3 linked regions of the Homo sapiens genome follow. The protein of the gene in region 3 purifies or fractionates together with the protein of the main gene of each other region. This does not show direct contact. Each region holds a gene or a part of one and is shown on either strand. Other genes may lie near its edges. The genes, in order: UNC13B, TBCE and DIRAS1.

Region 1 (3,656 bases), on a different chromosome or scaffold from region 3:
GTCTTTTCAACAGGCATAGAAAAATATTACCTGCTGCTGAAGGATCTGCCTCTAATTGAGGATGTTGATCTGAGACACCGAGGCATTTGGTCCAACTGAGTATAATTATATGCCAAAGAAAACAGCAATGAGAAAATTACACATAAAGTCCAGGTGGAAAGCTAATTGGAGATCTCCAAACATATAACAAAAACCATCTATGGAGTGGGAGGAGGGTAAGGACTGAAAACTACCTATTTGGGTATTATGCTGATTACCTGGGTGACAAAATTATCTGTATATGAAACCCCTGCAATATGGCAATATGCAATTTACCCATGTAACAAACCTGCATATGTACCCCTTGAACTTAAAAGTTGGAAAGAAAAAAATTAATAATAAAAAAACTGGTCAGGTGCAGTGGCTCACACCTGTAATCCTAGCATTTTGGGAGGCCAAGGTGGGCAGATCACTTGAGTCCAGAAGTTCAAGACCAGCCTGGGCAAAATAGGGCAATTCCATCCTACAAAAAGTAGAAAAATTAGTCAGGCATGGTGGCATGCACTTGTAGTCCCAGCTACTCAGGAGACTGAGATGGGAGGACAGATTGAGCCCAGGAGTTTGAGGATGCAGTGAGCCACGATCGTACTACTGCACTCCAGCCTGGGTGACAATGCAAGACCCTGTCTCAAAAATAAAAACAAATGTTTAAAAACCATCTACAGGCTGGACGTGGTGGCTCACGCCTGTAATCCCAGCACTCTGGGGGGCCGAGGAGGGCAGATCACAAGGTCAGGAGTTCAACACCAGCCTGGCCAACATAGTGAAACCCCCTTCTCTACTAAAAATACAAAAAAAAAAAAAAAAAAAAATTAGCCAGGCATGGTGGCAGGCACCTGTAATCCCAGCTACTCAAGAGGCTGAGGCAGGATAATTGCTTGAACCCAGGAGGCAGAGGTTGCAGTGAGCAGAGAGGGCGCCACTGCACTCCAGCCTGAGCAACAGTGTGAGACTCCATCTCAAAAAAAAAAAAAAAAAAACCTACAAAGATGTTCATTGTAGCACTGTTTGTAATAGTGAAAAGAAAAATATCCTGAATATCATCAATATAAAACTGTTTAAATTATGTATGCTTATATAACAGAATACTCTGCAGCCATTCAAAAGAATGGTATAGACCAGGGTGTCCAACCTTTTGGCTACCCTGGGCCACAGTGGAAGAAGAATTATCTCGGGCCATGCATAAAATACATTAACACTGGCCAGGCGCTCATGCCTGTAATCTCAGCACTTTGCAAGGCCAAGGCAGGCGGATCATGAAGTAAGGTGATCGAGACCATCCTGGCTAACAAGGTGAAACCCTGTCTCTACTAAAAATACAAAAAATTAGCCAGGCGTGGTGATGGGCGCCTGTAATCCCAGCTACTTGGGAGGCTGACAGGAGAATCGCTTGAACCCAGGAGGCAGGGGTTGCAGTGAGCTGAGATCGCGCCACTGCACTCCAGCCTGGGCGACACAGCGAGACTGTCTCAAAAAATAAAAATAAAATAAAAAAAATACACTAACACTAATGATAGCTGACAAATCTCATAATGTTTTAAGAAAGTTTACAAATTTGTGTTGGGCCACATTCAAAGCCGTCTTGGGCCACATGCAGCTCACATGCCACAGGCTGGACAAGCTTGGTTTAGACTCAGATGACCTGACAGGAAAATAGATCATTGAGGTTAAAAAACAAAAAAAGCTGAAGAATGCTATGTACATTCAACTGCAGAACCTATATACTCATCTGCAATGAAAATTTCCAGAAGGATAGGTAAGAGACAGTAAACAGTAGTTACCTCTGGGAAGTAAGAATACCGAATGGGGACAAGAGAACTTTTCCTTCTACTTTACACTCTAAACTGTTTCAACTTCTTATCTGTATATTTATCACCTTATAATAAAAACAAAATGAAAACAATGAATTAAAAAGTTAACAATAGTTGGGTGTGGTGGTGTGTTCCTTGTAGTCCCAGCTACTCGTGATGCTGAGAAAAGACAGTCACTTGAGCCCAGGAGTTCAAATCCAGCCTAGGCAACATAGTGAGATCCCATCTTTAAAAAAAAAATTAAATTTAAAAAAAAAGTTAGCAATGGTATTGGCAGGTGGTAGGCCCATGGAAATTTTTTTCTTTTTTTGTACTTTTCTGCATTTTTTAAATTTTCTATAATTAGCAATGTATTACCATACACATATTTTTTTTGAGACAGGGTCTCACTTCGTCACCCAAGCTGGAGTACAGTGGCATGATCTTGGCTCACTGCAACCTTGCCTCCTGGGTTCAAGCAATTCTCATGCCTCAGCCTCCCAAGTAGCTAGGATTACAGGTGAGCACCACCACACCTGGCTAATTTTTGTATTTTTAGTAGAGATGGGGTTTCACCACGTTGGCCAGGCTGGTCTCAAACTCATGTCCTCAAGTGATCCACCTGTCTCAGCCTTCCAAAGTGCTGGGATTACAGGCAAGAGCCACCACGACTGGCCTGCATTTATTACTTTTGGGGGAAAAAAATCCATAGTTAAATTATCTAACTATGTTATAAACACTGGGAATAACTATGTTATAAACACTGGGAATTACAGAGAAATATTATGGAAAGGTCTGATTCTAAAAATGCTTATAATTGCTTGGAGAAACTTGGTCGTGAATACCAAGACAATAAAAGTCAAACAAAATCCTTAATTTAGTTTACTGCAGTTGTTCATGTGGCACTGGTCCCTATGGAAGCCCAAAAAAAGTATCCGTATTATAAGTAAAGCTGTGCCAAAACATGTTAAAGACTTATATTTCTTTATACTTATGGAAATATTTAAAGAAAGACTAAGTGAATTCTATAAAAGAGTGGTTTCTTAAAAATTCAAGTCTAGGCCGGGCGCAGTGGCTCACGCCTGTAATCCCAGCACTTTGGGAGGCCGAGGTGGGCAGATCACGAGGTCAGGAGTTTGAGACCAGCCTGGCCAACATGGTGAAACCCCGTCTCTACTAAAAATACAAAAAATTAGCCAGGCATGGTGGCAGGCGCCTGTAATCCCAGCTACCCCAGAGGCTAAGGCAGGAGAATCGCTTGAACCTGGGAGGCAGAAGTTGCAGTGAGCTGAGATCATGCCACTGCACTCCAGCCTGGGCAACAGAGACTCCATCTCAAAAAATTAAAAAAAAAAAAAAAAAAAAATTCAAGTCAATCACCCGCTGAATGGTCAATATCCCCTTTAGAATCCTTACCACTCATTCAATTTCTGTTTAGTGTCAAAAAATCTACATAGCCCATTCCATTTGTTCTGAACAACCCAACTGTTCTTCTTTATGTTAAGCTAAAATCTAATTTCCTGTCATTTTCAACCACTGATCCACACTTGTCCCAGTTCTGTCCTCTGGAATGACAACAAAAAAGGTGACATAACTTCTACAAGACAGTTTTTTAAACAGTCTTCATGTACTATCGTGATCCTCTTCCTCTTAAATCTTCTACAACTAAATTTCCCATATTCTTCAAATGGTTCGGTTCCTACATGTTTCATTATTCTAATCACTCCCCTCTTAAGATAACCTAGCTTCTCAATATGCTTCTTAGAAGGAAATACCACAGCTGAACACAAAATTCCAGATCTGATCTGACCAGTGCAATTACTTCCT
Region 2 (3,656 bases), on a different chromosome or scaffold from region 3:
TTGAACCCAAGAGGCGGAGGCTGCAGTCAGCCAAGGTATGCCATTGCATTCCAGCCTGGGCAACAAAGAAAGACTCAGTCTCAAAAAAATAAATAAAATTTTAAAATTTAAAAAATAAAAATACAAGTCTGGGTGCGGTGGCTCACGTCTGTAATCCCAGCACTTTGGGAGGCCGAGGCGGGAGGATCACGAGGTCAGGAGATCGAGACCATCCTGGCTAACACGGTGAAACACCGTCTCTACTAAAAATACAAAAAAATTAGCCAGGCGTGGTGGCGGGCGCTTGTAGTCCCAGCTACTCGGGAGGCTGAGGCAGGAGAATGGCGTGAACCCGGGAGGCGGAGCTTGCAGTGAGCCGAGATCGCGCCACCGCACTTCAGCCTGGGCGACAGAGCGAGACTCCGTCTCAAAAATAAAATAAAATAAAATAAAAATAAAAATAAATAAAAATAAAAATACAAAAATTAGCCGGGCATGGTGGTGAGTGCCTGTAATCCCACCTACTTGGGAGACTGAGGCACAAGAATTGCTTGAACCCTGGAGGCGGAGGTTGCAGTGAGCCAAGATCGTGCCATTGCACTCCAGACTGGGCCACAGAGTGAGACTGCGTCTCAAAGAAAAAAAAAAATGTAGACGTTACATTCTTTTTTTTCTGTCCCTTTCATGGGAAAGACTGTTGCTTACTATTAAGGTTGCAATGAAAGAAATTCCAAAGCCATTTCTGATTTACTACCATCTTCCGATCATAAAATTTAAATGTTTAAATTTTACTACAATTGTATTACCCTAAAAATGAGTTTTTTACTAGTTTTAAGTGCCCTTTCAAAATTTTCATTAACATGTAAGCAGAATTTTACTACCACTGAGACATATAATTTGTTCTACTTCTTTTATTAACTTCCTTTAAAATAAAGTAGGGCCTCACTATGTTATCCAGGCTGGTCTTTAACTCCTGGGCTCAAGCAATCCTCCTGAGGATTCCCAAAGTGCTGGGATTACAGGTTTGAGCTACCTCAACTGGCCATATTAACATTTGTCCATAAACATTTTTCTATACAGCCACAGAGTCAACACATTAATCATCTCAATATCCAAGTATGATACCACAATTTACTTAATAATTTCTCTCTTTTTTTTTTTTTTTTTTTTTTTAGACGGAGTCTCACTCTGTCGCCCAGGCTGGAGTGCAGTGGTGCAATCTCAGCTCACTGCAAGCTCCGCCTCCCGGGTTCACGCCATTCTCCTGCCTCAGCCTCCCCAGTAGCTGGGACTACAGGCACCCACCACCACGCCCGGCTAATTTTTTGTATTTTTAGTAGAGACGTGGTTTCACCATGTTAGCCAGGATGGTCTCGATCTCCTGACCTCGAGATCCGCCCGCCTCGGCCTCCCAAAGTGCTGGAATTACAGACGTGAGCCACCGTGCCCAGCCTCTCTCTCTCTCTCTTTTCTATTGGTAGAGAAGGGATCTCTCTATGCTGCCCAGGTTGGTCTCAAACTGCTGGCCTCAAGAGATTCTCCCGTCTCAGCCTTCCAAAGTGCTAGGATTATAGGTGTGAACCACTGCACCCAGCCAATCATTTCTCTAATGCTGTTTATTTACAACTCCAAAGAAAACAGCTAAAAACAGCTTTGATTTTTAAAATATTACCTTATGAAGTATTTCCTTGGGAAAAATTCTTAAGATAGATAAATATGTTTAAGGTTCTACAAAGCCAGCCAGGAGCGGTGGCTCACGCCTGTAATCCCAACACTTTGGGAGGCCAAGGCAGGAGGATCATCTGAAGTCAGGAGTTCCAGAGCAGCCTTGCCACTATGGTGAAATCCCGTTGCAACTAAAAATACAAAAATTAGCCTGGCGAGGTGGAGTGCGTCTGTAATCCCAGCTAAATATGCACAGCAAAATTAAAAATTAAAATATAAAAATCAGCTGGGTGTGGTGGTGCACGCCTATAGGCCAATGTATTTGGGAGGCTTAGGTTGGAGGATGACCTGAGCCCAGGAGTTCGAGGCTGCAGTGAGCCCTGATCACACCACTGTACTCCAGCCTGGGCAACAGAGGGAGACCCTATTGTACAAAAAAATGAAAAAATGAAAAAAAGGGCAGGCACAGTGGCTCATGCCTGTAATCCCAGCACTTCGGGAGGCCAAGGCAGGCAGATCACCTGAGGTCAGGAGTTCGAGACCAGCCCGGCCAACATGGTGAAACCCCCACCTCTACTAAAAAAACAAAAATTAGCTGGGTATGCTGGCGGGTCCCTGTAATCCCAGCTACTTGGGAGGCTGAGGCAGGAGAATCACTTGAATCCGGGAAGTGGAGGTTGTAGTGAGCCGAGATCGTGCCATTGCACTCCAGCCTGGGTGACAAGAGCAAAACTCTGTCTCAGAAAAAAAGGTGGGGCCGGGTGCTGTAGCTCACGCCTGTAATCCTAACACTTTGGGAGGCAGAGGTGGGTGGATCAACTGAGGTTGGGAGTTTGAGACAAGCCTAACCAATATGATGAAACCCCATCTCTAATAAAAATACAAAAATTAGCCAGGCTATGGTGGCACACGCGTATAATCCCAGCTACTCAGAGGCTGAGGTGGGAGAATCACTTGAACCCGGGAGGTAGAGCTTGCAGTGAGCCAAGATCGTGTCAGTGCACTACAGCCTGGGTGACAGAGGGAGACCCTGTCTCAAAAAAAAAAAAAAAGGGAAAAAAAAAAAGACAAGAGTGGCCGGGGGCGGTGGCTCACGCCTGTAATCCCAGCAGTTTGAGAGGCTGAGGCAGGTGGATCATTTGAGGTCAGAAGTTCAAGACCAGCCTGACCAACATGGAGAAACCCCATCTCTACTAAAAATACAAAATTAGTCAGGTATGGTGGCGCATGCCTGTAATCCCAGCTACTGAGGAGGCTGAGGTGGCAGAATTGCTTGAAGCCAGGAGGCGGAGGTTGCGGTGAGCCAAGATCATGCAATTGCACTCTAGCCTGGGCAGCAAGAGCAACCACTCTGTCTCAAAAAAAAAAAAAAAAAAAAAAAAAAAAAAAAAAGCCAGGCGTGATAGCTCACACCTGTAATCCCAGCACTTTGGGAAGCTGAGGCGGGCGGATCATGAGGTCAGGAGTTCAAGACCAACCTGACCAACATGGTGAAACCCCATTTCTACTAAAAATACAAAAAAGAGCTGGGCGTGGTGGCGTGCGCCTGTAATCCCAGCTACTCAGGAGACTGAGGCAGGAGAATCGCTTGAACCCGGGAGGCGGAGGTTGCAGTGAGCCGACATCACACAATTGCACTCCAGCCTGAGCGACAGAGCAAGACTCCATCTCAAAAAAAAAAAAAAGAAAAGACAAGGAGGAAAAAAGCATAAAAATATGAAGTGTAGAAGATGGTGCAAAAACCCCAAATTCATTCAATCAACAATTATATTATGGAGTGTCTGCTAAAAGCCAGATACTATTTTAGGCAATTGGAATAAAACAGTAATGGATTTTACAGGGAAGTACAATAAGAGATCTTCCCAAAAAAAAAAAAAAAATGCCGGGTGCAGTGGCTCACGCCTGTAATCCCAGCACTTTGGGAGGCTGAGGCGGGTGAATCACAAGGTCAGCAGTTCAAGACCAACCTGGCCAAGATGGTGAAACCCCATCTCTACTAAAAATACAAAAAT
Region 3 (2,309 bases):
CTCCTCCACCCTTCATCCCATTCCTCACTTCCTACACCCACCACCTCCTCCACCCTTCATCCCATCCCTCACTTCCTACACCCATCACCTCCTCCACCCTTCATCCCATCCCTCACTTCCTCCACCCACCACCTCCTCCACCCTTCACCCCATCCCTCACTTCCTACACCCATCACCTCCTCCACCCTTCACACCATCCCTCACTTCCTACACCCACCACTTCCTCCACCCTTCATCCCATCCCTCACTTCCTACACCCACCACCTCCTCCACCCTTCACCCCATCCCTCACTTCCTACACCCGTCACCTCCTCCACCCTTCATCCCATCCCTCACTTCCTACACCCACCACCTTCTCAACCCTTCACCCCATCCCTCACTTCCTCCACCCACCACCTCCTCCACCCTTCATCCCATCCCTCACTTCCTACACCCATCACCTCCTCCACCCTTCATCCCATCCCTCACTTCCTACACCCATCACCTCCTCCACCCTTCATCCCATCCCTCACTTCCTACACCCATCACCTCCTTCACCCTTCACCCCATCCTGCACCTCCCCACCCTTCTTGATCCTTTACAGGCGGTGAGCTGACACCCCACGCCCACCACAGAGACAGGGCGCCATGCTGGTGGGGAATGCAGGATCCACTTTTTTATTGCAGGAAGACTATGTCTAGAGCGAAGGCTACACAGACCCCACGATGGGGGAGTGGGGGCACCCACATGCGGGGGGAGAGGGGGCAGGGGCGGAGTCACAGCAAGCATGGCCTGGCACAGTCCCCAGCACCAGGGATGCCCAGGCAGGATGGGCCAGCAGCCAGGACAGGCTCGGGTCCCCTCCTATTGCAGATGCCCTCTCTCCCCAGGGTCGGGCAGGGCCTGAGGTGGGAGAGGCCTGGAGGTGGGCAGGGCCCCAAGGAGATTGTGCTATCAGGGTGTGTCCCTGAGAAAGGGCCGCAGACCCCTGCCCAGCCTCACTCTCTCCGGCACCTTCAGAACCCAGAAGCTACTGCCAGGACAGGAGAGGAGGCAACATCAGCTGCTGGTGGGCCCTGGGCCAGCCCAAGTTTTGGGGGGACCCAGCTCTGCTCAGACACAATGCCAGCTCTTCTGGGAGCCCGGTCCACGTGCTGGATAGCAACACACACGCACGTGTGCACACTCCCTCTCTCTGAGTGTGTCCAATAAACATTTGTTGAGTAAACACTCACACGAACACAGAGGAAAACAAACATGCTTGTACCAAATCAGACACGAGCAATCTGTTACCTACATAGTCCCACCTGGCCACATGACTACAGAGACACATGTGTGCAATCTCTCTCTCTCTCTCACTGCACAAAAGGGCGTGCGCACACACACACGTTGCTTCCTCACACCCAATAAGACCAAAACCTCCATCTCACCTTCCCTCACTAACTTAGCTGCCATGCTCCGAGCCCCGCTGTGGAGAGACCCACATGGTACAGAACAAAGGGCAGCTTCCAGCCAACAGCCAGCGAGGAACTGAGGCCTTCAGTCTTGCAACAGCAAGGAACTGAATGCTGCAACAACCACATGAGCTTCTAAGAAGCAAATCCTTCCCCGATCAGGCCTTCAGATGAGACCTCTGCCTGGCGAATGCTTTGATTGCAGCCTCCTGAGATCCCAAGTAGAGGACCCAGCCAACCTGCACCCAGGCTCTTGACCCACAGAATCTATGAGATAATAAGCATGTGTTGTTTCTGGTTGCTACATTTGTGGTCATTTGTTACACAGCAGTAGCTGACTGATACAGATTTGGAACCGAAAGTCACATTGCTAGAGTCATGTTGCTATAGAGTGGAACACAGATCGTGTCCCTCAATCAGGACAAACATATTTACAGATAAATGCTCTCAGATAAACCATATCACCCACTCCCCAAAATATAGTCATGCTCATACAGGCACAAAGATTCACACAGACACCTCACACATATCCAGTCTTGCTGACAACCACACACAGGTATCTACAACTACCCACCTCTCTGTATACCCTACACCACTATTACACACACAGACTGCCACAAAAACATATCATCCCAGACAGACACACACAGGTATACACGCAGATGCACTTAGATACAAGTCACCCATCCGCGCACCCCAGGTTGCACAAATACACCATTCCATAGCCACTTCCGTGTATGTTGGACACAACCCTGTGGGGTCACACGAGTGTGGTGTCACTCAGACTCTCTCAAAAAACACCCAGAACCTCATGGCTGCAGGTACACTCGACTCCAGGACGCCACCTTCCCGGGCAGGCCCTGCTCTCTGGGGCAC

What was found.
Region 1: the proteins of DIRAS1 (region 3) and UNC13B purify together in Homo sapiens (affinity purification with mass spectrometry; one large-scale study listed by BioGRID and IntAct). This does not show direct contact.
Region 2: the proteins of DIRAS1 (region 3) and TBCE purify together in Homo sapiens (affinity purification with mass spectrometry; one large-scale study listed by BioGRID and IntAct). This does not show direct contact.

The regions. Positions count from the first base shown.
Region 1 is NC_000009.12:35,164,950-35,168,605, reverse strand, and holds part of UNC13B (protein unc-13 homolog B), read right to left. Parts: intron 1-3,656. UniProt on the Homo sapiens protein: Plays a role in vesicle maturation during exocytosis as a target of the diacylglycerol second messenger pathway.
Region 2 is NC_000001.11:235,370,419-235,374,074, reverse strand, and holds part of TBCE (tubulin-specific chaperone E), read right to left. Parts: intron 1-3,656. UniProt on the Homo sapiens protein: Tubulin-folding protein; involved in the second step of the tubulin folding pathway and in the regulation of tubulin heterodimer dissociation.
Region 3 is NC_000019.10:2,713,937-2,716,245, forward strand, and holds the end of DIRAS1 (GTP-binding protein Di-Ras1), read right to left. Parts: 3' UTR 631-2,309; downstream 1-630. UniProt on the Homo sapiens protein: Displays low GTPase activity and exists predominantly in the GTP-bound form.